Linked DNA regions of Homo sapiens. The protein of the gene in region 1 interacts with the protein of each later gene in a biochemical or structural test. Each region holds a gene or a part of one and is shown on either strand. Other genes may lie near its edges.

What was found. Proteins that work in one complex are often made in the same cells at the same time.
Region 2: of the proteins of ZBTB46 (region 1) and DESI1, one has a biochemical effect on the other in vitro, tested with the Homo sapiens proteins (one study listed by BioGRID).

Annotation. Positions count from the first base shown.
Region 1 is NC_000020.11:63,828,243-63,835,521, reverse strand, and holds the start of ZBTB46 (zinc finger and BTB domain-containing protein 46), read left to right. Parts: upstream 1-4,257; 5' UTR 4,258-4,425; intron 4,426-4,691; exon of another isoform or gene 4,692-4,824; intron 4,825-4,884; exon of another isoform or gene 4,885-4,965; intron 4,966-7,279. UniProt on the Homo sapiens protein: Functions as a transcriptional repressor for PRDM1.
Region 2 is NC_000022.11:41,611,032-41,618,054, forward strand, and holds part of DESI1 (desumoylating isopeptidase 1), read right to left. Parts: intron 1-7,023. UniProt on the Homo sapiens protein: Protease which deconjugates SUMO1, SUMO2 and SUMO3 from some substrate proteins. Has isopeptidase but not SUMO-processing activity. Desumoylates ZBTB46. Collaborates with UBQLN4 in the export of ubiquitinated proteins from the nucleus to the cytoplasm.

The DNA of each region.
Region 1 (7,279 bases):
CCCCTGGCCCCAGAGCAGCTCTGGAGGGTGGTCCTGGGGAGGCCTGGGTGGGAGGGCAGGGCCAGCTGGCACTGGACCTGGCCAAGCCAAGCCCGAGAGGAGGCCCACCTCTATCCAGCCTCGACAAGGCCACCTCCCCCAGCCCGTGGGTGGGGCTCTCCTGCAGCCCACGGCCGGCCTCCAGTCCACCCGCAGGACCCAGGATGACGTGTGGTGGGCGGCTCCCTGGACAGCCCCAGCATCCTCAGGCTGGTGGCGGGCCTCTCTCCCCGCCCTGCCCTCTGCCTCTCCCTCTGTCTGGGCTCCCAGCAGAGGCCTGGAGAGGGCAGGGACAGGTTCTGGGCAGTTCCCTGGGAGGGGGCAGGACTCCCAGGGCTGTTGCCATGGGGACGACTGAGCAACACCACTGGCTGGTGAATAAACAGGCAGGTTCCCTGACCAGTGACTGAGACAAAGACAACCACAGAAATCCCAGCTGGGGGTGGACAAGGAAATGCCTCCTTGGGAGAAGAGGGGGTGGCAGTAAAGGCCCTGGCGAGGTTGGGGAGCTGCTTGGGGGGGGGTGGGGACACAGACAGGAAGGGGTATCTTGTTCCTCGGGAATTTTCTTTCCCAAAGCTCCTCCCAGGCCATCCTTCCTGAGGATGAGAGGCAGATCCCTACTCTCTTGGTGGTGTCAGAGCACCTGGAATGGGGCTGGGTCCCCTCCCAGATCCCCATCCCCTAGAAGCCACACAGTGAGGGTGGAGGGCAGGTGGCCGGCTGGCAGGGTAAGTGGTGCAGGGAGTCTGTGAACACAGGTCTGCGGAGAGGCCATAAGCGCGAGGCTGTGCCAGGACCCTCGGGGGGCCCTGCCAGCCAGATGGCTCTCCATTTGTGTCTCTGGTTGAGTTTTCCCAGGGGTTTGTGGGGGGCACGTCCCTCAGCAGGTACATCCGTGGGGCTGCCCAGCCTCTGCACCTTGCCCTGAGCCCCCCGTCCTCCAGAACTCCTGGCCTGCTGCCGCTCATCCCTCATAGGCCTCAGGGTCCCTTGGACAGGCTCCCAACGTGCTCACCCAGATGGCTGGGGGTGACTTTCAGGAATGACCACGTAATGCAGCGTGGACAAGTGTGCCCTACAGAGACCTGACCTTTTGTTCACCTGTCTTGTTCACCCACTTGGCGAGGTCAGGGACCATGTCCAGTTCATCATGTCACCCTCAGGGGCCCCACCCTCTGGACCCTCCCAGACACCCATGTGCTGGCCTCCCAGCCCTGATCCCAATGCTGCTGAGGCCACACTTCACATTCTCTGTTCCCAGAGCTGCCTCCCAGCCGGCTGTCAGGCGGCAGATCCCTCCTTGCATCTGTGGCCCCCAGGCCTGGTGTGCGTCACCTGCACAAGTGTCCCGGGGCCCTAGGAAGAGGGGGCACCGCGGCCCAGCCTGGCATCCCCCCGTCTCATGTCTAATCCCAGCAGCAGCTCAGTAGATGCTGGGCTCCAACAAACCTGAGGTTCCTGGGCCACGGGGCCAGCATGCCCGTCGGAGCAGACACTCCACGTGGCTGTAGGAGTCCAACTACTCCACCCTCCTCGTCCTCCCAGTTCGGCTGAGAGGCTGCAGCTGCTGCTGCTGGTTTTTGTTTGTTTTTCTTTTAAATAGTAATGGGGTTTATCAGCTCTTGGAATAACGGTCTGTAGGACTTAATCAGGGCGCTGTCTCTGAGACCGGTCTTGGTTCTTCCTTTTTGACATACTGTCTTCGTCTCCAGGCTGCTTGACCTTCTGTTGGTTCTTGGAGCAGAAAAGTCAGGAGTCTCTGTCCCGTCACTGGCAGTGTTGCCGAGGGGGAAGCGGGGAGGAGTGGGGCTCCCAGGTGAGAGGGGGCCCAGAGCCTCATCCGCCCCGTTCATTCTAGAACTCAGCACGTTTCTTTTTTTTTCTTTTTTGAGACAGAGTCTTGCTCTGTCGCCCAGGCTGGAGTGCAGCGGCACGAACTTGGCTCACTGCAAGCTCCACCTCCCGGGTTGACGCCATTCTCCTGCCTCAGCCTCCCGAGTAGCTGGGACTACAGGCACCTGCCACCACGCCTGGCTAATTTTTTGTATTTTTAGTAGAGACGGGGTTTCACCGTGTTAGCCAGGATGGTCTCGATCTCCTGACCTCGTGATCCGCCTGCCTCGGCCTCCCAAAGTGCTGGGATTACAGGCGTGAGACACCGCGCCCGGCCCTCAGCAAGTTTCTACCAAGACAGGCAGCCCTAACCTGGCAGGTGGGGTTGGCCTGGGTCGTGGTGAGATCAAGGTTTGGTTCTTATGGGCAGGCCTCCTAAGCGATGACTGAGTGCCACTGTGTGTTCCGCCAGGCAGCTGCTGCTGCTCTCCATCCCTGCATGGACAACGGACATGGCAAACCATCAACACTGCTCTCCTTGGAGGCTGTCTAGGGAGGTCCAGACATCTTGGGAGAGACTGGGGTTCTCTTTTGCGCAAGAGAGCATGGGCAGGCTCTGCGGGAGGCCCTTGGGGCAGGCATCAGGGCTCTGGTCCTCCTTGCTTTGGCTCGGTGGGCCCGAGCTCTCCTGTCTCCCCAGGCCTCCTTTCCTCCGTGGGGTACAACTGGGCTCTGGGTGGGCAGGTGGGGGCTCCTGCAGGCAGTGCTGTTTTCTCCAAGGGGGATGCACGTGACCCGCCAGACCCTCCTGGAAGCCGCCTCTTCTCAGGGTGGTTGTGCTCAGCCCCCACTTCCCGAAGGTCGGTGAGGCTGGGGCTACAGTTTCAGACCAGAGCAGGCAGTGCCACCGAGAGGGTGCCGCGCGAGGTAGGCCGGCGACGGGGCTTCCTGGGCCGCAGTGCCATCCCGGCGACCTTGGCGAGGGGATGGGAACGGGGTGTCCGCACAGCCATTTCCAGGCGCCCGCGACGGCAGTAAGGGAGTGTCCCAGGCGTTGGTCCCGGCAGCCACACCTCGCTTCGCCTTTGCTCACTCATGGAGAGCCCTCAGCCGCCTCCCACTGCCGCTCCTGAATGCGCCTCACACATCCAGATTTGAAAGCACCCATAGGGCCGCCGCCTCCCACCTCCCGAGGAATCCGCTGCGCTGGGCCCGCAGGGAGGCAGGCTGGACGGCCCGGGCGCCTCCCCATTGGTTGGCCGGGCCGGGCTCGACTCCCTCGCGCGGCTGCCGGCCACAGGCTCACCTCCCTTCCCGCCGCGCCCGGGGAGAGGAAGCGAGGTGGCCTTTACCCCTGCGCAGGCCGGCCAGGAATGCGGGGCCGCGCTTCCCACTCTACCCGCCCGAGGGCTGAGGACGGCGGAGGCGAGAAGCGACGCGCAGAGTCCGGGCGCCGAGTGGTGGAGACGCGTCCCAGGCCGTTCGGATCGGGGCTGCACACGGGCTGGGGCGAGGCCCGGGCCGCTGGTTCCCGCCCCCTCCCGGAGCCATTCGTCCCCCGCAGACAACACGACGGGAGGGACCCACGCGCGGCCGCCGGTGCCCCTAGTCAGCCAAAAGCGAGCCCCACTGGCGGGCACCCCCACGAGGCCTGCGCCCGAGGTGCGCCGATCTCCGGGTGCGCCGAGGCCCCCGAGGGTAGGCGCGCGCGGTGCCCAGGCCCTTCCAGACCCCGCACCCCGGGCGGCCTTCCTTGGGGGCGCCTTTTCCGCACCGCGAGCGGCCCGCGTTGATGCCCGGCCGGGCTGGGGGAGTCGCCAAGTTTGCGAGACGCGCGCAGTGCAACCGCGCGTCAGGCGCGGGGACGGCCGGTGACCTGGGCACCCGCGCGCCCCCGAGGAACCTGCGCGTGGGCAGCGCCCGGTGCGCGGCCCGGGAAGGGAGCGGGTGCCCTCGCCGGGGTCGCCGCTCCCGTGGGGTGTTTCCAGGCTGCTCCGCGCTCGCGGGGCAAGGGCGCAGCGGGGGCCAGGGGGACCCCCGCGCCGCGCCGCCCCAGCCCCCCGCCAGCCCAGGGGAGGGGGCTTCCCACAATGCCCAGCGAGCTCCAGCCCGCACTTCCGCTGTCCGGCTGCCCGCGGGGGGGAGAACGGACCCCCGGCGCGGCCCCCTGCGACCCCGCGGCGCGGCGCCGGGAGCCGAGCGAGGGGCGGGGCCGGCGGCCGGGCCGGCGTGGGCGGGGCCCGGGGCGGTGGCCGCGGCCGGGGCGCGGCGCGGGCCAATCAGCGGCGGCCGGGCGCGCGCCGGGGGGCGGGGTCAGGGTCCGCGGGCGGGGCGCGCGCGCGCGGGCGGCGGGGGCCGCGGGGTTGGAGCGGGCGCGGGGGCGCGCGCCGGCCTGACGGACCGACGGACGGACGGACGGACCGAGCAGCCCCGGCGAGCGCGCAGCTCGGACCCGCCCGGACGCAGCGCCCTCCCGGCGGCGGCGGCGATCACCGGCGCCGGCCCGGCGGCCGCGGCGCCCGCCCTCGCCCGCGCCCCATGGGGTCACAGGTAAGCGGCGCCGGCTCATTGTCCGCGCGGCCGGGCGGGCGCATCGCGGCGGGGGCCGGGCCCGGAGCCGGGAGCCGGGAGCCGGGGCCGCTGCGAGCCCGGGCGCGCCCCCGCCGCCGGCCGCCCCGCCACGCCCCGCCCCGCGGGGGCGCCCTCCCGGGGGCCATCGGCGCTCCCAGCTGCGGCGCGGGCTCCGGGGGCGGCGGCGGAGACCCCGGCCCGGCCCCCGCGGGTGCCCCCCAGGCCGGCGGCGCGGGGCGGGGCGCGCGGGGGCGGCGCGGGTTCCCCGCGGGGCTGAGCGCGGAGGCGGCTGGGCTGCCCCGGCCCCTCGGCCCCCGGCACCTCCCGCCGCCGCCGCGCTCCCTCCCCGGCACCTCCGAGAGGGGAATTTTCCAGCTGGTAATTTCTGCTGCGTCAACGCCTGGCCCCGAGGCAGCCCGGGGGCGTCTTGGCGCCCCCCGCCCGCGCCCCCCGCCGGCACAGCCCAGCCGCACCCGGAGCCGCCCGCGCCGAGTTTGCCAAGAGTCGGAACTGCGGGAGGTGGGCGCGGGCGGGTCCCGGCGCCCTGAGGCCGGGGGGTCATTGTCTCCCCGGACGCCGGGCGCCGGCCTGGTCTCCATCTTAATCGCCGGCCGAACCGGGGCGCAGGGGCCTCGGGGCGGGGCGGCTCGGGGCGCGGAGGGCTCGGGGCGCGCGGGGCGGACGGGGCGCGCGGAGGAAGCGGGGTCCGCTGCGAGCCGCGTCTTTGTTTCTCTGTAAATAGACATGTCAGTTTCGCGGGGGAGCGCGAGCCGGTGTCTGACAACTCAATCCCTAAGGCAAACGGGGAATTCTCTGCGCCAGAGGGAGGGCTCCTGCTAGTTGGGGTTCCCCTGGCCCCGCTGACAGATTCACTGTTTGTAGGTTTAACGAAGCACACACAATAGGGCTGGACCGAGGAGCCAGGGTACAGACCAGATGGGGCGAAGAACGGATATTTTCTGACAGCGAAGAAATATAAACAAAAGAAAGTTTGAGATTCGCAGCGAATTTCCTCTCTCGCTTTCCGTGCTGCAATCTCAACGATGCATTTGGAGTGGATTACGGTGGCAAGATTGTGATCAGCATTGTTTAAAGAAATGCTAATTAGAAACGTGTTTAGCGCGCGGCCTGGGCGCAGACACCTGTGCGCCGAGAACTCACGGGCATTTTAATTGTATCGATTGTAGAATCTTTCATATTGGCTCTATTATCAGAGCTAACTTCCCGTTTGGGTAACAGACTGGATACATCTCTGCTGCTGGCACTCACGCTGCCTCTGCAAGGCACTATTTCACTCTACAAGAGTGGAAAATAGTTTGTTCATCAAAAGGAAATGTATAGAAGGGGTTTTTCACATGAATAATGAAGCAAGCGACAGTATTTATCAGAGTAGAACCTTTCTGCTCGGTGTGTTTTACGTGTTTCCAACTGGCACTTTTGGGCACCTCAGCCTGGTTACCACTGCAGAAAGGACTGAGGAGTGAGGGGAGTACTTGGGCACAAGTTACTGCAAATTTAGGTGGGAACTTACTGTGTCCCCTAAAAAGCTAGACATCTTCTCCGTAACTGAAGGAAGAGGGCTGGGGAGTTACTGTCAGATTTCTCCTTGGGGCGTGGAATGCACTCACTTTGAGGTGTTTAGAAATCCGAAATTCCGCCTTGCCTTCAGGCCAGCCTGGGGACAAGCATTTAATTAAGCCTCTCACTGACAGCATTATCCTGAACGTGAGAGTTTTCTTTTGCTTAGATGAGGTGATTTCTGTTCGGGTTTAGCTGTTTTGTGTGAGGATGAGTCGTTCTGTGCTCAGACCTGAGTTCCACTCCTGTTTCGGATGTTCGGGTTGGGTGGACTGTTACCTAAGGGCCCCCAGGTCAGTTCCACCAGGGCCAGGCTGACCCAGTGCCCTGCGTCCTCCGTCCCTCCCCAGCCCCTGGTGGTCACAGAGGTCAGGAGGTAAACCCTGTGAACGGTGAAACTGCTCCAAGGATTTAGAGGAAATGCCGTGGGGGGTACACAGTTGTTATTGTCAGACGATGTACTATTTACAAACACTGAATTAAATTTTAGCAGAGTGAACTTTCCAACACTGCCCTGACGTGGGGTTTTTAAATTAAGGGAAATTGGGCCACTCTGTCCCTGTGGCCTGTGTTTCTGGGACAGCGGTGCAGCTCCAGTGCTCTGTTCTCCATCAGAGGTCTTAGCCCGGCCTCTCAGAGCCCTGGAGACCCACTTCGTGCACGGTGCCTAGACGGCTCCACAGCCTGAGAACTGGAGCCGGTTCCTCCCACTGCCGTGACTGGTGCCCAGGCACCCGCTCCACTGCTGAGTTAAAGTGAGAGGAAAGGTCTAGAAGTCCTTGCCCCTTCCCATCCGCACACCCAGTGTCACGGCGTCTGCCGTGGTAGGTTCCCTGTCCTGGGGACTTCGTGTTCTTGCCTAAGTACCGTTCTTGTAAAAACTCAGGCTGCTGCTTCTCCCTGGGCTTTGCATGTTTTACCTGGAAGTCTCATGAGTGACCTTGAGTGATGGTTGATACTTCCCTCTACTGGTTTTTCTAGCAGATTTAAAAAAAAAAATACCCTTTGAATCTGTCCCCTCCCCTGGGGGAAAAATTCATCTTGTTGCTGCTAAGTTTGCTTGAATGGCCTGACTCCTAAGAATAAATGTTTGATTCAAAATCTCTATTAAGGCCACAGACTTATTCAGGGCTTTGAGAGGCCGCCGCCTTATCCTGATTGTGGTCCTCTTGCCGTCTGCCGCGGCTGCGGCGTAGCTGTGAACTTGTGCGGAGTGCTGGGGTCTTAGGCCATGGGGTCCATGGGAGGGATTTTC
Region 2 (7,023 bases), on another chromosome or scaffold:
GTAATCCATTTAGGACGAGCATCTTCAAACCCTGGGTTCCACTGGGCTATAAGATACTAAATCTCCTCTTTCCTGTTTACTATATGTAAAATGGGGAGACTAACATTCCTTTTTTTGAGACAGAGTCTCACTCTATTGCCTAGGTTGGAGTGCAGTGGCACGATCTTGGCTCACTGCAACCTCCGCCTCCTGGGCTCAAGCAATTCTGGTGCCTCAGACTCCCAAGTACAGGCTGGGATTACAGGTGTGCGCCACCATGCCCAGCTAATTTCTGTATTTTTAGTAGAGATTGGGTTTCACCATGTTGCCCAGGCTGGTCTCGAACTCCTGACCTCAGGAGATCTGCCCTCCTCAGCCTCCCAAAGTACTGGGATTACAGGTGTGAGCCACTCTATGTGGCCTAACACTGCATTTTAAATAGAGCTGATGTGCCCTTCTGAACTGTCATTTATAAATCAGCTGTTTAAATGGCTGCAATTTGTTTATTTACGTGAAGACATTTAATAGTTCAGTGAAACTGGAGAAATTAAGGATACCTGCTTTCTCTTACCTGTTCCTTCTTTTTTTTTTTTTTTTTTTTTGAGACAGTCTCACTCTGTTGCCCAGGCTGGAGTACGATGGTGTGATCTTGGCTGACTGTAACCTCCGCCTCCCAGGTTCAAGTGATTCTCCTGCCTCAGCCTCCTAAGTAGCTGGGACTACAGGCGCTCACCACCACGCCTGGCTAATTTTTCTATTTTTAGTAGATATGGGGTTTCACCATGTTGGCCAGGCTGGTCTTAAACTCCTGACCTCGTGATCCGCCCGCCTCGGCCTCCCAAAGTGCTGGGATTACAGGCGTGAGCTACCGCGCCTGGCCCCTGTTCCTTTCAAATGAAGCTTTTCTCATTTACTTTGTGAGGAATGCTACGCTTACAAGGAGGAAGTACAATATAGTGAATAAGAACACAGGTTCTGGTGTAGACAGGTTGGGTGTGAATCCTACTGGCTTAAACGGTGAACTAATGGTTTATTGAGTGACTACTACCTTCCAGGCACTATCCTTGGCACTAAGGATACATCAGTAAACAAAAACCTCCTTCATGACACTTACTAGGTGGGGGGAGGGGACAGTCAATAATAATAATGATGATAATAAGTCATAACATGTTAGCAATAGTGAATGGTATAGAACGAACAAGAGTAGGTTAAGGGGGTCTGGGCGTAGTGGCTCACGCCTGTAATCCGAGCGCTTTGGGAGGCAGAGGCGGGCGGATCACCTGAGGTCAGGAGTTCGAGACCAGCCTGGCCAACATGGTGAAACCCCATCTCTACTAAAAGTACAAAAATTAGCCAGGCATGGTGGCACACACCTGTAATTCTAGCTACTCGGGAGGCTGAGACAGAAGAATCACTTGAACCCGGGAGGTGTTGCAGTGAGCTGCGATTGCACCACTGCACTCCAGCCTGGGCGACAAGAACAAAACTCTTGTCTCAAAAAAAGAAAAAAAAAAAAAAGAGTAGGTTAAGGGAGTTTCAGGGATGATCAGGGTGGGCCTCTTTGAGAATGTGATATTTGAGTGAAGATTTTTTTTTTTTTTTTGAGACAGGGTCTTGCTCTGCTACTCAGGGTGGAGTGCAGTAACGCGATCAAAGCTCACTGCAGCCTTGACCTCCCAGGCTCAAGTGATCCTCCCACTTCAGCTTCCCAGTTGCTGAGACTATATGTGTACCACCCAGGCCTACTTTTTTTTTTTTTTTTTTGAGACGGCGTCTCCCTATGTTGTCAAGCCTGGACTTGAACTACTGGGCTCAAGTGATCCTCCCACCTCCAGGCGTGAGCCACCAGGCCCAGCTTTGAGCCAAGATTTAAAGGAGGCAAGGGAAAGAGGGATGCAGGGGCAATGACATGCCAGGTTTATCTGAAGGCCTGTAAGGAGGCCAGTGAAGTTAGAATGGGTGAGGAGGGGAAGTAGAAGATGACCAGAGGTAATGGAGGACCAGATCACAGAGAACACTGCAGAGGCTGAGAACACTAAGCCTGAGCTGTCCAATATGGTGACCACTGACCACATGTGGCTATTTAAGTTAAATAAATGCACAAATTCAGTCCCTCAGTTCCACTAACCACATTTTAGGTATTCAATAGCCACATGTGACTAGTGTTTACTTACTGGACAGTGCAGATCTAGAACATTTCCATCACTGCAGAAAGTTCTATTGGACGCACTGTTTAAACTATAGTTTCCTATTCTGTAAAAAAAAGCATAATAACACTGCCTGCCTCATAACATTTCCAGGATTAAAAGAGACGATACATGACACATGCGTAGCACAGGGTCTGGGACATAATACATGCCCAATAAAGGCTAACTCATTTCTTCTAGGGTTTATAATTTGAAAGTTTTATAGTTGTTCTCATAGTACCCTGGTATTGAAACTATTCACGTGTCCTTCTCCCCAGTTAGACTACAGTTGCCTCAGTAACCAGGACAGTTTCTTATGTATCTTTATAACTCCAGCACCTAGCAAAGGACCTGGTCCTGAGATGTGACATGAACATCTGTTGAGATGAGCTGTTCTGTTTAGTTAGCTTTGTTGGTTGACACACAGTGCTATTGAGGACAAAGTTCCTAACCCCAATCTGGGCTGCCTGGCTTGTTATTGCAATGACTCTGCCACCCTGGCATACTGCACTCCCAGTCTACTGCTGTCTTCTCAGATGCGCATGCTCACTGACTCAGGAGTACAGCTGGCAGGTATGGATGTATCATCAGCTCAAACCCATTCCTACTAAACAGATTTTTGAAGAGGGGCCTCAGTTATTTCACACCTGAAAAACAACTCAAAAGTTGCAGGATACAAACCCTACTTTATTCTCCTTTATATCCTTTGTATCATCACTGAATTTGCCTGTAAGCTACACGCCACACTTCCTATTCAACTGCATCAAGGTACACTTAGGATCTCATCCATTCATAGAGTGGAGATAGGGACTATAGAAAAAAGATCCCCTTATTTATTCATTCTTTCTTTTTTTTTTTAAGACGGAGTCTCGCTCTGTTGTCCAGGCTGGGGTGCAGCGGTGCAATCATGGCTCACTACAACCCCCGCCTCCCGGGTTCAAGCAATTCTCCTGCCTCAGCCTCCCGAGTAGCTGGGATTACAGGAGCTCGCCACCATGCCCGGCTAATTTTTTGTATTTTTAGTAGAGACGGGGTTTCTCCATGCTGGCCAGGCTGGTCTCAAACTCCTGACCTTGTGATCTACCCGCCTCGGTCTCCCAAAGTGCAGGGATTACAGGGGTTAACCACTGCACCCAGCCTGTTCATTCTTTCACTTATTCATTCATCCACCAAACACTTGGAGCCAACAATAACATTAAAAATGAATTGAGTGAATTTACATCCTTTCTTTTTTCCTTTTGAGACAGAGTCTCACTTTGTTTCCCAGGCTGGAGTGCAGTGGCGTGATCTCGGCTCACTGCAACCTCCGTCTCCGGGGTTCAAGTGATTCTTCTGCCTCAGCCTCCCAAGTAGCTGGGATTATAGGTGTGAGCTACTGTGCCCGGCCTACATCCTTTTTTTTTTTTGAGATGGAGTCTCACTCTATCACCCAGGCTGAAGTGCAGTGGCATGATCTCGGCTCACTGCAACCTCTGCCCTCCGAGTTCAAGCGATTCTCCTGCCTCAGCTTCCCGAGTAGCTGGGATTACAGGCATGCGCCACCGTGCCCAGTTAATTTTTGTATTTTTAGTAGAGATGGGGTTTCACTATCTTGGCCAGGCTGGTCTTAAACTCCTGACCTCAGGTGATCCACCCGCCTTGGCCTCCCAGAGTGCTGGGATTACAGGCATAAGCCACCTCACCCCACCTTGTTTTCTTCTTCTTTTTTTTTTTTTTAACAAAAAAGTTCCTTTTCACCTGTTTTCCACATGCATATCTGCAGAAGATTTCATTTCAAGGAAGAGTTTCACAGCTAAAGAGCATTTGAAAACCACTGGTCAGGCCACATGCAGTGGCTCACGCCTGTAATCCCAGCACTTTTGGAGGCTGAGGCGGGCGGATCACGAGGTCAGGAGATCAAGTCCATCCTGGCTAACATGGTGAAACCCCGTCTCTTCTAAAAAAAAATACAGGCCGGGCGCGGTGGCTCAAGCCTGTAATCCCAGCACTTCGGGAGGCCGAGGCGGGAGGATCACGAGGTCAGGAGATCGAGACCATCCCGGCTAACACGGTGAAACCCCGTCTCTACTAAAAATTAAAAAAAAAAAAAAAAAAAAAAAATTAGCCAGGCACGGTGGCGGGCGCCTGTAATCCCAGCTACTCAGCAGGCTGAGGCAGGAGAATGGCATGAACCTGGGAGGCACGCGCCACTGCACTCCAGCCTGGGCACACAACAAGACTCTGTCTCAAAAAAAAAAAGAAAATTTAAAAAAGCAGAATCACGCAGGGCCTTGTAAGCCATATTCCTTTCCATTTTGCCTTAAAGAAATTGAATGATTATTAAATTAATTCATTAGATGAGTATAAAACAGTTCACACAGTGAACAAAAATCAAAAACAAAGCACAATAGATGGCATTAAAACAGAAAAAACCTCTCTCAGATTTGAATAAATTTTACTTAATCTTCAAGCTTAAGTTCAAGTCTCAATCATTTCTATAATCAATACTTACTGAACACCTGCTCCAACAGGCCACTGGGGACATATAGGAAGGGGACAGAGTCCTTGCCCTCCAGGAGCTCCAGGCTCTTGCCAAAGCCTCTCTGACATGCTCAGCTCACCATGGCCTCTCTTATTTCAAAGCCTAACATAGTTCATGCACCACTCACTCACTTTGGCACCTAATCATAATCTGTTTTATATTGTTATCAAATGTTATATGTGTACATTCATTATTTAAAGGAAAATAATATTTTAAGAAAAACTCCTGGGCTGGGCATGGTGACTCATGCCTTACTTTGGGAGGGGGGTTTGTTCAGCATTTTGGGAAGCTAAGGTGGGTGGATCGCCTGAGATCAGGAGTTTGAGACCAGCCTGACCAACATGGTGGAACCCAGTCTCTATTAAAAATAGAAAAATTAGCTGGACATGGTGGCACATGTCTGTAATCCCAGCTCCTTGGGAGGCTGAGGCAGGAGAACTGCCTGAACCCAGGAGGCGGAGGTTGCAGTGAGCCGAGATCGTGTCATTACACTCCAGCCTGGGCAACAAGAGTGAAACTCTGCCTCAAAAAAAGAAAAATTCCTGGAGGACAGAGTTCACGTCATATCTTTTATTTCATTACTATTTGTACTACAAAATGAAGTAAAGAATTGAGTATAGTGTAAAATCTCTAATATTCATTAGAATTCATTCTGCCAAGCAATTTATATATTCTATGTCTCCAAATCTTTAAGTCTGAAAACAGTTTTGAAATGGGCTTGTAAAGAAAAATAAACGTGATGCATGTACACGAAACTTCTGATCAGAAAATAATAAACAAATATGAAGTACTTCTTACCACAATTAAAACACACACACACACACACACACACACACACACACACACACACTTCTGCATGTACTGTGGCACAAAAAGAGGTCAAGAAACTTAAAGAGCAGCCAAAATTATTAAGAGGAGGAACTGAAGGACACTTATAATAGCTAATTATTTTAGGCAATTGGTGACTATGAAAAAAGGTGCAATGAGGCTATCTGCTCAATTAGAATGCTGAAGATAATTTTGGGACCATTTTTCATAGTGAATGAAAAGCTATAGAACAGTAATGCCTTCACTTGAGGCAATTCCAGGAGGCTGAAAACAGGACAGGCTAAAACTACGGAATTTACATTGCTTCAGGAAAGGGGAATTACCTTGGGCTTTATCTAGTCTAATCCTGAACTGCGACAGAGCTAGATGAGGTCTCCCATTGGAGAACTGACATAACTGAAGCCTGAGAGGGTACTGCAGATGAGATCACATGGATTTAATTTGGGAAAATGGAGACTAAGAGGCATGATCATAAATCTAGATTGTAAGTGGCACATACACATTGAACCCAGCTTTTTTTCTCATCCAAACTTGAAACATTTGGCAAAGGATGCCTTTACAAACTTCAGGAAGGCATCTACTTTACTTCAATTTTAAAGGAACGTATTACACAGAGGTGGTATCTCAAAATGACAGAGAACGCGAGCTCTGGAAGTCAGACTGCCTGTGTTCATAACCCAGCTCTACCACCTAGTAGCTCTGGGACCTGGGGCAAATTCCTTAACACTCTACTTCTCAGGTTCTTCAATCAAGAAAATGGAGGCAATAACAGGACTTATCTCACAAAGTTGTGGTGAGGATTATAATGCACGCAAAGTACTCAGAAAAAAAGGGTCTGACACATGGTAAGCTCTCAATAAATAGTGGCTATTAATATACTTCTAGAATTCATCATAAAAATCAGGAAACAAATTGATTTTTTAAAGGTTCAAATGTATTTAGGAATGGGAAATCAATATATGGCTACTTATAGCACTGGGACATACCCAACTTCAAGATTTGTGTTGTCTGAATGGGATGAATCAGTAAGACCATGCCTATTTTCCTTAAGTGTTCAACTCTAGAAAGTAATGACTACTAGCTTTGCTAATTCTTTCTTCATTAATTTTGCAAAAGGTATAAAAGCAATATGGAAAAAAGAGGTAGAGAAGACAGAAGTAGATTAGCACACAAGGTGATTTCCTCAGATCAGAATCTGATGTGCCCAATGAATGGGTGATGTTCCCATGTTTGGCTGAGGCATTCCAGGACTTTACATCTATATAAAAGGGCGGGGAGTGGGAAGGGGGCAGGTCTATTACTCCATCTTCAGTTACAGCACTTTCCCCTTCACCCACTACACTCCACAAAAGCCTTCTTTCAGTTCCAGTATCAGGCCAGACTCTTTCCTGTCTCAGGGCTTTGGCAGGTTGATCTTTCTCCTACCTGGAACACTGTTACTCCCTTACTACCCTCCTGTGGCTACTTCTTCCTCATCCTAAATTCCCACTTTCAAAGTCACTACCCTTG